3 linked regions of the Homo sapiens genome follow. The protein of the gene in region 3 purifies or fractionates together with the protein of the main gene of each other region. This does not show direct contact. Each region holds a gene or a part of one and is shown on either strand. Other genes may lie near its edges.

Region 1 (5,212 bases), on a different chromosome or scaffold from region 3:
AGTTTTTTAAAAAGGAAACGAAAAAAAGAAGCTTTGAGATGATTAGCCCTCGCCATGTCTAATAACAACTATATGAAAGACCACAAGCAAAAATTGCCCAGTTGAGCCCTTCCCAAGTCGTTGACTCAATATCAAGAACAAAATAAGTAGTTACCTTAAGCTGCTAAGTTTTGGGGGGTAATTTGTTAAATAGCAACAGATAACATGGTCAACAATATATGCTAAGGAATTATCTTTTTCATTACTTAAAATTAAACTCAAAAGATAAGTACTTTTTTCAGTCATTTATGAAACAACAACCTCTCTCATTCCACATATAAGTTTTGAACATGCCAAAATTACCCAAATATCACCTCACATTAGCACTTACCTTGATGCCAAAAGTGAATACTGTCATTATGATTTTAAATATGAGTGCCAGGCATAACTGCCATATAGCTGAATATACTCCAATGCCTGCTGGACGATCAGGAATGTCATCGACAATTTTACTGGCATTCATGTCATTTCTGTAGTCACAAAGAGAAGAGGATTCCAGGGGACCACAGTCTGTAAAAAGCTCTTTGATCAGTTCACTGGTGTTTAGCCTAGTGTATGGATTAGGGAAGGCTATCACAGCAGTAATGGCTGCAACAATAATGACTTCCAGAACGGGATACTTTCCAAATTTCGTGGACTTGCGTCGACGACACCAGGCAATATTTGCCCTAATGAAAAAGGCTCCCCAAAGCCCTCCAAATACCCCTAGAAGAATAAAAGGAAACAGTTCAAAAAGGTACCATGGTGTATGATACTCCACATAAAAAAGGACCAGACGGCTGTTACCAAATGGATTGATGGACCTCAAAACAAATGCAGCCACTAAAGCAGCAAAAAATGATCTCCATAAAGTTTTGAGAGGAAAATAATAGCTAACCTAAAAAAAAGAAAAGGAAAAGAAAAATTAATGCTATAATTTTATAAGATGTTTCTGATATATTATAACTTGAATGGTAAATATCCTAGCTCTAAATTTTGCTGTAGTTAGAATTTACATGTAATGGATTTTACTGTAATAAGAAAAATTGATGTTATTATTATTTTTGGAGATGGTGATCATCATTACAAATTGACAGTATCAATTGATCATAAATGTCTAATAAATACTAATAGAATACCTAGTGCTGTTTTATATTCAAAATGAGTTTCACATTCAATTCAATCATGGTAGTTAAAAATAAATGTACCATCACCAACTCCTGTTAACTTATAATGCATTTAATTTGCCTCTTCTACATTAAAAAAAAAAAAAGAATACAAACAACTAAAAGAAAAAAGTACATTTAAAAACATCTTGAACTAAAAGAGTTAAATTCATAGAAGTAGAGAGTAGAATAGGGGTTACCAGAGGCTAGGGGTTGGGGAGGTGAACAGGGAAAGGGGAGACATTAGTCAACGGGTATGAACTTACAGAGGAGGAATAAGTTCTGGTGTTCTATTGCACAGTAAGATGACCACAGTTAATAATATGTATTATATATTTCAAAATAGCTAAAAGAGGATTTTAAATGTTCTCACCACCACAAGGACATAATAAATATTTGAGGGATTTGCTAATCACTCTGATTTGATTATTCCGCAATGTATACATGTATAGACACATCACATTATACCCCATAAACAAAAACAATTATTATTTGTCAAAAAAAATTAAAAAAAAATTCCTGGTTACATTTTTATGTAAAAAGAAAAGTCTTAAACACCTATTAAGAAAACAAAAACAAAATAATCCACTGAAGTCACTAAAATTATTTTCTTTAACATCACTAACTGTATCAGAAATAATCACATGGGAAAAACTTTAAAACACAACATAGGAATTGATTAAAATTTTTTAAACAAAAACTACTTGGGAGGCTGAGGCAGGAGAATCACTTGAACCCTGGAGGCGGAGGTTGCAGTGAGCCAAGATCGCGCCATTGCACTCCAGCCTGGGCAACAAGAGTGAAACTCCGTCTCAAAAACAAAAACAAAACAAAACAAAACAAAAAAACCCCACAAAAAAACAGCCTGGCCAACATGGTGAAATTCCATCTCTACTAAAAATACAGAATTTAGCCAATGGAAATAGATTGTTTCACATGTCCTCTATTAAGTCAAATTCACATCTTCTTACTTTTAAATATGTCAACAAAGTTAGATTTTAAATAATTACTAACATTCATACATTAATAAATTTTTAAAAAGTTTCCTCCAGGTATGGAGCATGAATAACATTTACTTTTTATTAAGAATGAGTGGAAAACAACTTTAGAAAAATAAATTTGAAAACAAAGTCTCTACCTATTACATCACCTACAAAACTGAAATGTGTGAAATATATTTGTAATGGTAATTATATATAATTTTAATTGTTGTATTCTTTTCACCTACCTCTTCCAGGCTAAAAAGAACTCCTCCAATTGGTGCACCAAAAGCTACAGAAACCCCTGCAGCTGAGGCAGCTGATAGCACCTAGAAAGAGGATATGGCTTATTTCATAATTTCATAGAAATTCAAACATACCAAATAAAAATTCTTCATGTTACTTGAATTTTCCAAATGGATTTTCTGAATTTAACTTGCATGTTTCCTTGCTCCCTAAGCAAAGGGTAACTATTCATTTCTTCTATTAAGATTTGTTTCTTTCTCCTGGCTTTAATTGAAAGGTCAGTCATGCATTTACCATTCAGTTAAAAAAAATTTTTGCCAGATATACTAATGTGAATAGGGTGTAAAGAGGAGGAGGCAATGAATATAGACAATTTTCAAGACGTATGTTTGTGTAGGTAAGAGGGGAGGGCAGTAACTGGGATGGGGAGCTATTTTTAAATAGGATATCATTTCTTCAAATTTTAGAGCTAACTGCTCCACCATAAATACTCTATTCCAAATCGTAGCAAGATATGCAGGGAACCGAAGACCTTGTAAGATTCCCTATATTTTCACTACCCTATGCATTCTGAAATACTGCTAAAATACTATCAATCTAGAGAGCCTCATTCTGAAAGCACACACAACAGCTCCTCAAGTTACAGTCTCACCAACCAACACCTCTACAAAAAAATTAAAGGAAAAGAAAAATCCAAGGACACTCTTCCGTGTCCTCTCTCCAGCTCCCCAGTCTATCAGTTGGTAATGGTCTACTTCCCACCTGTAAGCCAACTATACCTAACTATACCTATAATTTCACTAGGGTTTTATTTGTAATTATTTTTCTAAGAGTCTGTATTCCTTTATTTTTTTTGAGACAGAGTTTCTCTCTTGTTTCTCAGGCTGGAGTGCAATGGCGTCGTCTCAGCTCACTGCAACCTCCACCTCCTGGGTTCAAGTGATTCTCCTGCCTCAGCCTCCCGAGTAGCTGGGATTACAGGCGCCTGCCACCACGCCCGGCTAATTTTTGTATTTTTAGTAGAGACGGGGTTTCACCATGTTGGCAACACTGGTCTCGAATTCCTGACCTTAGGTGATCTGCCTGCCTCAACCTACCAAAATGCTGGGATTATAGGCGTGAGCCACCGCGCCCAGCCAAGTGTCTGTATTACTTTCACTACTTTAATACAGCAAATATCCAAAGCTACCTAAAGTATTTCTTCAAATGGTCAATTGTTACATTTCCAGAAGAGAAATTATAAATAATAAAAATTAAGCTGTAAATGGTTAAGATCATGAACTCCATAGTCAGGCTGCTGTGTTGAAATCATGGCTCTGCTACTTACTAGCTGTATGGCTATGGGTAGATAACCTAACCTATATGTGCCTCAGTTTTCTCTAAAATGGAAACGTGATAATATTACTTAGCTCTTAAGGACTGAGTAAATATATACAGAGTGCTTTAGAACAGTGCCTGGCACCAGTAAATACTTTATAAAAGTTTGGTGAATTAAAAGTAAATAAATATTTGTTTTAATCAAATTGTTGGCATTAAAATGTAGACTCTGCTTATTTGGGGAGGAAAGGGAGCAAATTTAGCTTCTTTTTTTTTTCCTCCACTAAGAGGAAAGCAAACATATTTATTTGAATGTCCTGATCCTGAATTTACAACCAAACTAACACCTAGGTATCTATAACTCATATACATGTTTTAATCCATTTCATACGTATCTAAGAAGCATTTAATTTAAAAATATCAACGCTCTCCCCTCTTGTCTACACAAAACTATGGGACCTTAATGCTTTCAACTAACCGTGAATTCTTGCCATTTATATATACACTAAGGTGACAGAATAACAACGTATTAAACATTAACTAATCACTACAGTATGAACATTAAAATTTAGGTAAACTTAATTTCTCAAACATCTAATAAATTACATTTTTTGAACTTAGAATAAGTAAAAGTCTTACCAAAAAATATAAAGGTACAACAGAAAGTAATGGAATTGAATTGAGGAGGCAAATGCTCTAGCTTCATCTTAGCCACTAACTTGCTACGCTACAGGATGGTTTTGAGTTTGTTTTGAACACACACAAATATATACCCACATAGTCGTAAGGGCAGTAATGTAAGTAGGTAAGACCACAGACTTTGAAGTCAAAGAAAAATGAATTTTAACCTACGTTCCACCACTTACTAGGTATGTAGTCTCGGGCAAGTTAGTTAGCTGTTTTCAGCCCTAGTTTACTAATCACTAAATGAGGATAACAGGGCCATATTACTAAATTACTGTGAAATTAAGTATTAAAATCCAAGTAAAGTATCTGCCACAGTACCAGATACACAGAAAGTAATCAATAATGCTAGCTATTTTTGTTATAAAGTACTGGAATCACAATTATTCAGAGATGAAACTACGACAATCTGAAGTATTCCACTTTTGGGATATCTACGTCCAATGCAAGGACAATATTTTAATGCGAACATTAAAATGTACTAGAATTATTTCAATTGAAGATTAAACAGTTTGATAAAATATTCTACTTTTTTGGTTACAGTACATTAAAAAACTCAACAAGATGAAAAGGTTCTGCCAGTATTTAATGAGATGTTTTTCAAAAAATCATATCTTAAAAACTCAAAGATCTCTGTACCATCTAGGGCTGTAGATTTAGATTTGGAAAATAGGAAGGGACTGGGCTCCCAAAGTCTAGAGCTAATATAAAGGATTCAGGAAAATGCCCAGAGCAATATGGAAACATCAGAGGAAATCCATAATATATATAAGGTTTCAAGGTCTTGTAGAAGATCTCAGG
Region 2 (4,122 bases), about 130 Mb from region 3:
AACCAACCAGCCACATAGTTTTCTAAGAAGTTTTCTTATATAAAGCTACTTATAAAATAAGCAGTTTGCCACAAAAAAAGTTTGGTGATGTTCATCAATCACAGTCTTTGAGAGCAGCAAAAAGCAGAATAGGAAAAAAACAGTTTAAAATATAAAAGATCTTTAATAGTAAGATCTACTATAACATGCCATAGTTTTGGAAGAAAAATAGAAATTATTATCATTAAATTGCTAAAAAGTCATCTAAGAAAATCAAAATTCCAAAATTCCAAAAGAATTATTCTTTCCAAAGGAAAAAATAAAGTTATCCTCTTTAATCCCTATATACAAAACAGACGCTGACAGTTTTTCAATTAAGTCTGACTACTGATATCCTACCAGAACCACTTCTTAAAGTGTTTAGTGATTAATATAACTTTCACATTCTGAAGAGTAAAACAATTATGTCGTATACAGACAAGTATCTTTTTCCTTCAAAATAAAGAGAAGCATTTATGAATTTGTAGGTTCATCCCACTAAATTGTAAAACATGTTGCTTAGTGTCAGAATATGTTACCAAAAGAAGACAACCCAAAATAGCATTTTAATGTTGACTAGTACACTGATTACCACAGAATTGCTAGTTTTAATACATCTTAAGTTGAAATATTACCAAAATAAAAATTTTAAAGGTCCAATTGGAATAGGACTTCTTTTAAAAAGTAGCTGAATTGATAAATTTTTAAAAATCCCACCTAAATCCTAATTTTTCTTCATCTTACATTACAATGCTACATTGTAACAGCATTACAAGCCGCTAATCACTCTGTACACTGAAAAATAATTATAAATTAATTTAAATAATGAGACAGCCATTACATAAGTGGAAACACAGACACACATATACCCCTCCACTAACAGTCAAGTTTGAAAAATGAATGGGTAATTTTTTAAATGACAAAATTGTGTTATTACTATTATTGTTATATTTGCAAAATATGTTTCCAAGGAAACATGAAAACCGTACCATGAAAAACAAATATTGAATTAGTAGCTTTCTATTTGTTCTTTTCCTTCTGAATTTTCAGTTCATAAGATTATGGGCATTAAGACAAAGGTAAATATTGTTGAATGTGCCCTTTTACTTATCACTAAAGCCACTGGCTTTACAGGTCCAAATCCTGCAATGTGTTTAGAAATCACTCACGTGTGACAAAGATCAATGAGATAATCACCAAACGAAGGAGATGTGTCTGATGAATTACTATAATCAAATAAGTATCTGATAATACAGCCACTATTAAATGAGATTTTTATACAGAAGAAAATCACGTAACTCCTATACTCTAGGATGGCCTTACATTTCTTAACACAGAAAACTGAATTATTTCCTATTTGGAATTAAACATCTTAAATGTTAATGCGTTCTTCTCTGTTATACCTATAAAAAATTAAAGATTATTTCCATACAGAGGCTGTACCTGCAAAAGTCATTGGAAGTAGTAGATAATTTACCCAATGCTTTTTAATTAGGAAAATTCTATTGATTACAAGCTTCAAGGCTCTAAGAGATCTACTTTTATGTTTTAAATTTAGCATGTTAGTCATGTTTTTTTCTTCTTTAAAATGTTGCCTAATTCAAGTTTGCAAAACGTTCACTGAAAGTCACCAGGAACTAATATTAGCAAACAGATGTACTTTTCTGGAGGCAAATATTAGTTATAATTTTCAAATGTGAACAGTCTAAAGAGAGTTCATGATAAAAATAACTCAATTGAAAGGAGATTTTGTTGTTTTTGTGGCAGGCAAAACAAAGATAATAAAGCCATTCCAAGCAAATTTTAGACAAAATGTCCCTCAGGATAATGATTAAGCCTATTTTCAAATAAGTCTGAATATTGGATCTGGTATATAAAGATAAATGGACAAATTTCTATGCAGAAAAATTTTTAGGATATAACATAATAATCCTCAGACATAATTTTTTAATACCAAGAATATCAAGCAAAGAGATTCATGAAGTCCAAAGCAGTGCCTACATATCTGTATATTTATAAACTCCACAGAGAAGTCTGATCTGTAATATCCATTAAGAACCACTGGCCTAGAAACTGCCAGATTTAAATTTAAAAAAATGTATTTTTGGAGACAGGGTCTAACTCTGCCACCTAGGCTGAAGTGCAGTGGTGCAATCACAGCTTACTGCAGCCTTGATCTCTAGGCTCAAGCAAACCCCTTGCCTCAGCCTCCCGAGCAGCTAGGACTACAGGCGCTTGCCAGCACACAAGGCTAATTTTTTAATGTCTTGTAGAGGTGGAGCCCACTATGCTGCCCAGGCTGGTCTTGAGCTCCTAGGCTCCAGTGATCCTCCTGCCTCAGCCTCCTAAAGTGCTGAGATTATAGGCATGAGCCACCATGCTTGGCCTAGATTTAAACTAAAGAAGGCAGGCTGTGGTCCACATTTTAAATCATATTAAAATGATGACTGATAACACTATATTGTTGCCTAAGGTCATCAAGAAAAATACCACATGACTCTGATAAATACAGGAAAACTCTATAGAACAATGCTCTGGATGGAGTCAAGTTTAAAACAAATAATATGTTGAGCATATACAATATACGAATTCAGCAAAAAGAATATTGAGAATGGATTTTGTTAAAGAGTGATGAAAATGTTTAAGATTGCTCACTTATTGGGGAGAAACAGTTTCAGCTGATGAGAGGAACAATGCGTAGGATAAGCCATGAGTATGGCTGATGATGCAAACAAACAAACAAAAAGGAAACAAACAAACATGTTTCATTTCTTATATCCCAGTCAAAAACTGTATCCTAAAGATAGGTTCAAGAACCTGTTTCCAGAAGACAGGTTTAAATATACATATTTGAAAAGACCAATCTTTACACACACATAACCCCAACAGACACCCATATTACATATATTATTTAATAATATAATATTTATATTTAATATAGTCCTAGGACTTGCATCTTTTCAGTGGAAAGGTGGTAAAGATAATGCTACTCATTTTATAAATATATAAAAGGAGCTAACTTCCTTAAGTTCAATTACAAGATTTCCTCAGTGGTCTCTTTAGTAGTAACAATATAAAATATACATAAAGGCAAAGGTCATATCTCTATCATCATTAAATAAAAATCTGGTATCCAAGTTAACAGTTTCCCCTGACCACTCCTTTTCACACAAAATATAAAATGTCTTAAGATTCAACCGTCAAATCTGAATTCTAATTCTGAGAGCCCACTTATTCTTTTCAGAAGCATAAACTTGATTTTCAATACAAGTACTCTGAAGGATAATTTTAATATGCCCTAAATAGAGAAAAAAAAGAAACCTCATTGGTGTTCCTTGCTAATGACAGAATGAACACTTGGTATTTTTTCTTCTACAAAAGGATGCACTGCACTGTGACCTAAACAAAGTTAACAGATTTTAATTTTGTTATTAACTTAATAACAGACGTGAGCTTCACAGGCTAAAAAGAAAGACTAAACCAACTTGCCAAACTTCATTTTTATATACTTTCCTGATTTTTATGCCCTGATCTATTTTTCTTTCTCTCTTACAATTTTATCTGAGTAATGCCAGAATACTGATTGCAAACAGTTGTAAAAAAATTTTATAAAGGTTCTTTATTCTCTAAGCGTGCACAGCTATTACATGTTTTAATACTTGATCTCATTTTCCAAAAGTAAAATAATTATCTTGGTATAAATCTCTTCCTATCACCAGGATGCTGAGATTTTTATTTTTGTCATCACCAGTATCAAGAAACAAAAGCATACAAAAAGTTTTGCAAAGATAACAGACTTTTTTTTTTTTTGAGATGGAGTCTTGCCCTGTTGCCCAGGCTGGAGTGCAGTGGTGCGATTTTGGCTCACTGCAACCTCTGCCTCCTGGGTTCAAGCGATTCTCCTGCCTCAGCCTCCTGAGTAGCTGGGACTACAGGCACCTGCCACCATGCCCAGCAAATTTTTGTATTTTTAGTAGAGACAGGGTTTCACCATGTTGGCCAGGCTGGTCTTGAACTCCTGACCTTGTGATCCGCCCACCTCGGCCTCCCAAAGAGCTGGGATTATAGGCGTGAGCCACCACAATTGGCCAGGTAACAGACTTT
Region 3 (5,212 bases):
AAAATGGATCAAAGACCTACATGTAATAGCAATACTATAAAATCTCAAAGAAAACATAGTAGGTCCTCATGACCTCACATTTGTCAAGGGACTGTATCTTGTCAATCCCTTGATTGATAAGGGATTATATATGTAATATGCATATATATAAAGAATTCTTACAATCCAATAGTAAATAGACAAATAACCCAATTAAAGAATGGGCAAAAGTTTGACCTGAATAGATATTTCTCCAAAGAAGACACACAAATGGCCAAGAAGCACATGAATAGATGCATGAACCATAAGGGAAATGCAAATCAAAACTACAAAAAAGTCAGGTAATAACAAGTGCTGATAAGGATGTGGAGAAACTGGAACTCTCATACACTGCTAATAGGAAGGCCACTTTGGAAAACAATCTGGCAGAAACTTAAAAGGTTAACAGAATTCCATATGTCCCAAAAATTCTACTCCTAGATATACATCCAAGAGAAATGAATCCATATGTCCACACATACACTTATATAAGAATGTCTACGGTAGCATTATACATAATAGCCAAAAAGGAGGAAAAAAAACATGTCCATCAACTGATGAATGGATATACAAAATATCACATATCCATATAATAAAATATTATTCAGCCATATAAAGTAATGAAGTACTGATACATGCCACATCACAGGTGAATCCTGAAACCATTAAGCTAAGTGAAAGAAGCCCAGTCACAAAAACACATATCATTCCATTTATATGAAATGCCCAAAATAGGTAAATCTATAGACAGAAGGTAGATTAATAGTTGCATATGGGGAATGGAAGACGGGGGATATCAGCTAAAGTGTATGGGGTTTCTTTTAGAAGTGATAAAATGTTCTAAAATTGACCGTGATCATGATGGCACATATCTATGAATATACAGAAAATGACTGAATTGTGCACTTTAAATTAAAGGTGAATTGTACAGTATATGAATGATATCTCAAAAAAGCTATTAAAATGTTTTTAAGTAAGTCAATTAAGCACTCAACACAAGGAAATACACACACACACACACACACACACACACACACACACATCAAAGTAAACCTAAGGAAATAGTAAAAGATGAAAACTGAACTTATTATTAAAATTAATAATTTTTAATAATTAAAAAATAAACAGCAACAGAAACTTAAATCAAGAGCTGTGTCCTTGAATGAAAAATAAATTAAATAAACCCCTACCTAGTCAAATCAGGAGAAAAATAAAGCATAATTACACAAAATTGGGAATGAGAAGTGAAAATAACCACAGAGGCAAATGAAAAAATAAAGAATACTGTGTAGCACTCCATTAAAATTAACTAGAAACCCTTACTGAAAAGAATGATTTCCTAGGAAAACCACCAAAATTAACCCAAGAAAGGAGAACATATATAGACTACAACCCTGAAAGGAATACAGAGATAGTTTAAATGGTGATATCTTTCAAACATACAAGAAAGAAAAATTCCTTTGTACTTACACTGTTCCAGAAAAACAAAAATCATCCAAGTACCTTTTATGAAAATGGCATAATATTGATGTCAAGTTTGATAAATACTGGCCAAGAAAACAAAAAACAAACAGAAAAACATTTAAAACCATTATCAAATATCTGCAAATAAAATCTAGCAGTTCCTCAAGAGAAAAGCACACTACGACTAAATAGTTTTTACCCTAGGAACACAAAACAGGATTAATATTAAGAATAAAACGTATACAAGGCCAGGCACGGTGGCTCAAGCCTGTAATCCCAGCACTTTGGGAGGCCGAGGCGGGTGTATCACGAGGTCAGGAGATGGAGACCATCCTGGCTAACACGGTGAAACCCCGTCTCTACTAAAAATACAAAATAATAGCCGGGCGTGGTGGCGGGCGCCTGTAGTCGCAGCTACTCGGGAGGCTGAGGCAGGAGAATGGCATGAACTCGGGAGGCTGAGTTTGCAGTGAGCCGAGATTGCGCCACTGCACTCCAGCCTGGGTGACAGAGCGAGACTCCGTCTCAAAAAAAAAAAAAAAAAGAATAAAACGTATATGAATAGGTTAAAAAAATAAATTGTGCACTGTAGATAAATTTGGAGATGGGGAGCAGAAACGGGAGAGGTTCAGCCTGTGTTCTCTTCTTTGAAACTGTAACCTGCTTATGGGGGGATGTTGAACTCTGGGTGGGAGACAGAAGTTAAGAGGGAAGATGGGGAAAGAAGCTGACAGAGAGGAAACTAAAGATTTCCAAACACTGTTGGGCCGGGCGCAGTGGCTCATCACATCTGTAATGCCAGCACTTTGGGAGGCCGAGGCGGGTGGATAACCTGAGGTCAAGAGATCAAGACCATCCTGGCCAACATGGTGAAACCCCATCTCTACTAAAAATACAAAAATTAGCTGGGCATGGTGGCGCGCATCTGTAGTCCCAGCTACTGCGGAGGCTGAGGCAGGAGAATCACTTGAACCCGGGAGGCGGAGGTTGCAGTTAGCCAAGATCGGGCCACTGCCACTCCAGCCTGGTGACAAAAGCGAGAGACTCCATCTTAAAAAGAAAAAAAAAAAAGATTTCCAAGCACTGTTGATGACCCAATTAAAAGTTGGAGACCAAGAATTTCTAGTGATGCCAACCCAGAGAACTGAATTATCTTCCCCAGCACAACTCAGAAATTCAGGTTAAGGAATTACAAGAAGTGCCTGAATGGTCTGTAGGACCAGCATAAAAACAACATAAGGCTCTGAATCACTCACTTCCCTCTTAAAAAGACTTAGTTATAAGACTGGTCATATTTTGCTTCAAATTTAAACAGTATCATAGTTTAACTCAGCCTTAGTAACAGGACTACAAACTTAATCACTGCCTTATATAACACCACTATAACTCCCTTATTATCTAGTGAGATATGAGAGTAAATTGAATAACACAATTTTGTCATTTAACTTGAGAGTAAACTGGATGAAATTAATGTTTCCTATTATTTGATCTCATCCTCTAAATACGCAGCATTAGATGTTATACAACACATCTAAGAATTTCATAGTTCATAAATTTCTAGCAAGAAACATACTAAGCATTTTTTCCTTAAACACTTTCCAACCTATGCCAGTAAGTTTCAATATGCCAGTGAACTAAAGGAAAAATTATCTGAACACTCCTTGTATCATTGTAAATCTACCTTTAATACAGAAAATCATCTATATATTCTATATATTATCATATATTCTCTCAGGTAAATAAGAAAATATCTAATTTTTCTCAGGGGAAAGAAAAAACTGTGGGGAGGAAAAAATACTCTGGGCTCTCAGAAGTAAGATTTTCTATTACCCATAGATAGTTCACGATTAGAGGCCGGGCGCGGTGGCTCATGCCTCTAATCCCAACACTTTGGGAGGCTGAGGCAGGCAGATCACAGGTCAGGAGTTCAAGACCAGCCTGGCCAACATGGTGAAACCCCATCTCTACTAAAACTACAAAAATTAGCCAGGCGTGGTGGTGGATACCTGTAATCCCAGCTACTCGGGAGGCTGAGGCAGGAGAATTGCTTGAACCCAGGAGGCAGAGGTTGCAGTGAACCAAGATCGTGACACTGCACTCCAGCCTGGGCAACAGAGCAAGACTTCATCTCGGCGGGGGAAAAAAAAGATAGTTCATTATTAAACAGGAAAATAATTTTCTCACATTGGCTGTAGTAAAAGAGGGTTAGCTTAAAAATTCCTCCTCTGGGTCCCTATCTCTCACCATATGCAAAGATTAACTCAAGATAGATTAAAGATTTAAATGTAAGGCCCGAAATTATAATAATCCTAAAGAATACTTAGGAAAAAAGTTTATGATTAAGACCTCAAAAGCAAATGCAACAAAAATAAAAACAGACAAATGGAACTTAATTAAACTAGAAGAGCTCCTGCACAGCAAAATAAACTACCAACAGAGTAAACAGACAACCTACAGGATGGGAGAAAATATCTGCAAACTATGCATCTGACAAAGGACTAATATCCAGCATCTATAAGGAACTCAAACAAATCAACAGGAAGAAAAAACAAATAACCCCACTAAAAAGCGGGCAAAAGACTGAACAGACACTTCTCAAAAGAAGACATACGAGCGGCCAAAAAACATGAAAAAATGCTCAACATCACTAAGCATCAGAGAAATGCAAATTAAAATCACAATGAGATACCATCTCACACCAGTCAGAATGGCTATTATTAAAAAGTCAAAAAACAGATGTTGGCAAGGATGAGAAGAAAAGGGAACACGTATACACTGTTGTTGGGAATGTAAATTGTTCAACTCCTATGGAAAGCAGTATGGAGATTTCTTGAAGAACTCAAAACAGAACTACCATTTGACCCAGCAATCCTACTACTGGGTATCTCTCCAAAGGAAATTAAATCATTTCATCAAAAAGACATCTGAGCCAGGCACACTGGCTCACACCTGTAATCCCAGCACTTTGGGAAGCCAAGGCGGAGTATCACTTGAGCCCAGGTGTTCTACACCAGCTAGACGCCATTAAAAAAAAAGAAAAAAATCTGTGCTCATATGTTTATCACAGCACCGTTCACAATAGCAAAGTCATGAAATCAACCTAAGTGTCCATCAACAACTGAATGGGTAAAGAAAATGTAGTATGTATTAATATACATTGTGGAATATTATGCAGCTATAAACAGAATGAAATCCTGTCCTTTGCAGCAACATGGATGGAGCCTGGAGGCTATTTATCAAGTGAAACAATTCAGAAACAGAAAATCAAATACCACATGCTCTCACTGGTAAGACAAGTGGGTACAATGGGTACACAGAGGCATAAAGATAAATGGGTACAATAAGTACCCACAGACATAAAGATGGAAATAAACAGACACTGGGGGCTCCAGAAGGAGGAGAGAAGGGCTGAAAAATTACCTATCAAGTACAATGTTACACTATCACGTACAAAGGTATATTATTTGGGTGAGAGGTTCACTAGAAGCCCAAACCTCACCATTATGCAATATATCCATGTTAATTACGTGCATATGTACCCCCAAATCTAAAATTAAATTAAAATTTTGTTTAAAAAACTCCTCCTCTAGGCTTCAAGATAAAGTTTGAATATTAATAGTTATTCAAGCAAGAAGTCACAGGACAAAATAAAAGTTAGAAGACCTAGTCAACAAGTGTGGCTTTAATTATGGTCTCTATGTAAATGACTTACAACTTGAAATCTCTAGCC

The links.
Region 1: the proteins of ALMS1 (region 3) and CLCN3 fractionate together in Homo sapiens (co-fractionation; one large-scale study listed by BioGRID). This does not show direct contact.
Region 2: the proteins of ALMS1 (region 3) and NBEAL1 fractionate together in Homo sapiens (co-fractionation; one large-scale study listed by BioGRID). This does not show direct contact.

Annotation. Positions count from the first base shown.
Region 1 is NC_000004.12:169,692,893-169,698,104, reverse strand, and holds part of CLCN3 (H(+)/Cl(-) exchange transporter 3), read right to left. Parts: intron 2,494-5,212; coding exon 2,413-2,493; intron 917-2,412; coding exon 371-916; intron 1-370.
Region 2 is NC_000002.12:203,220,190-203,224,311, reverse strand, and holds part of NBEAL1 (neurobeachin-like protein 1), read right to left. Parts: 3' UTR 1-4,122.
Region 3 is NC_000002.12:73,388,109-73,393,320, reverse strand, and holds part of ALMS1 (centrosome-associated protein ALMS1), read right to left. Parts: intron 1-5,212. UniProt on the Homo sapiens protein: Involved in PCM1-dependent intracellular transport. Required, directly or indirectly, for the localization of NCAPD2 to the proximal ends of centrioles.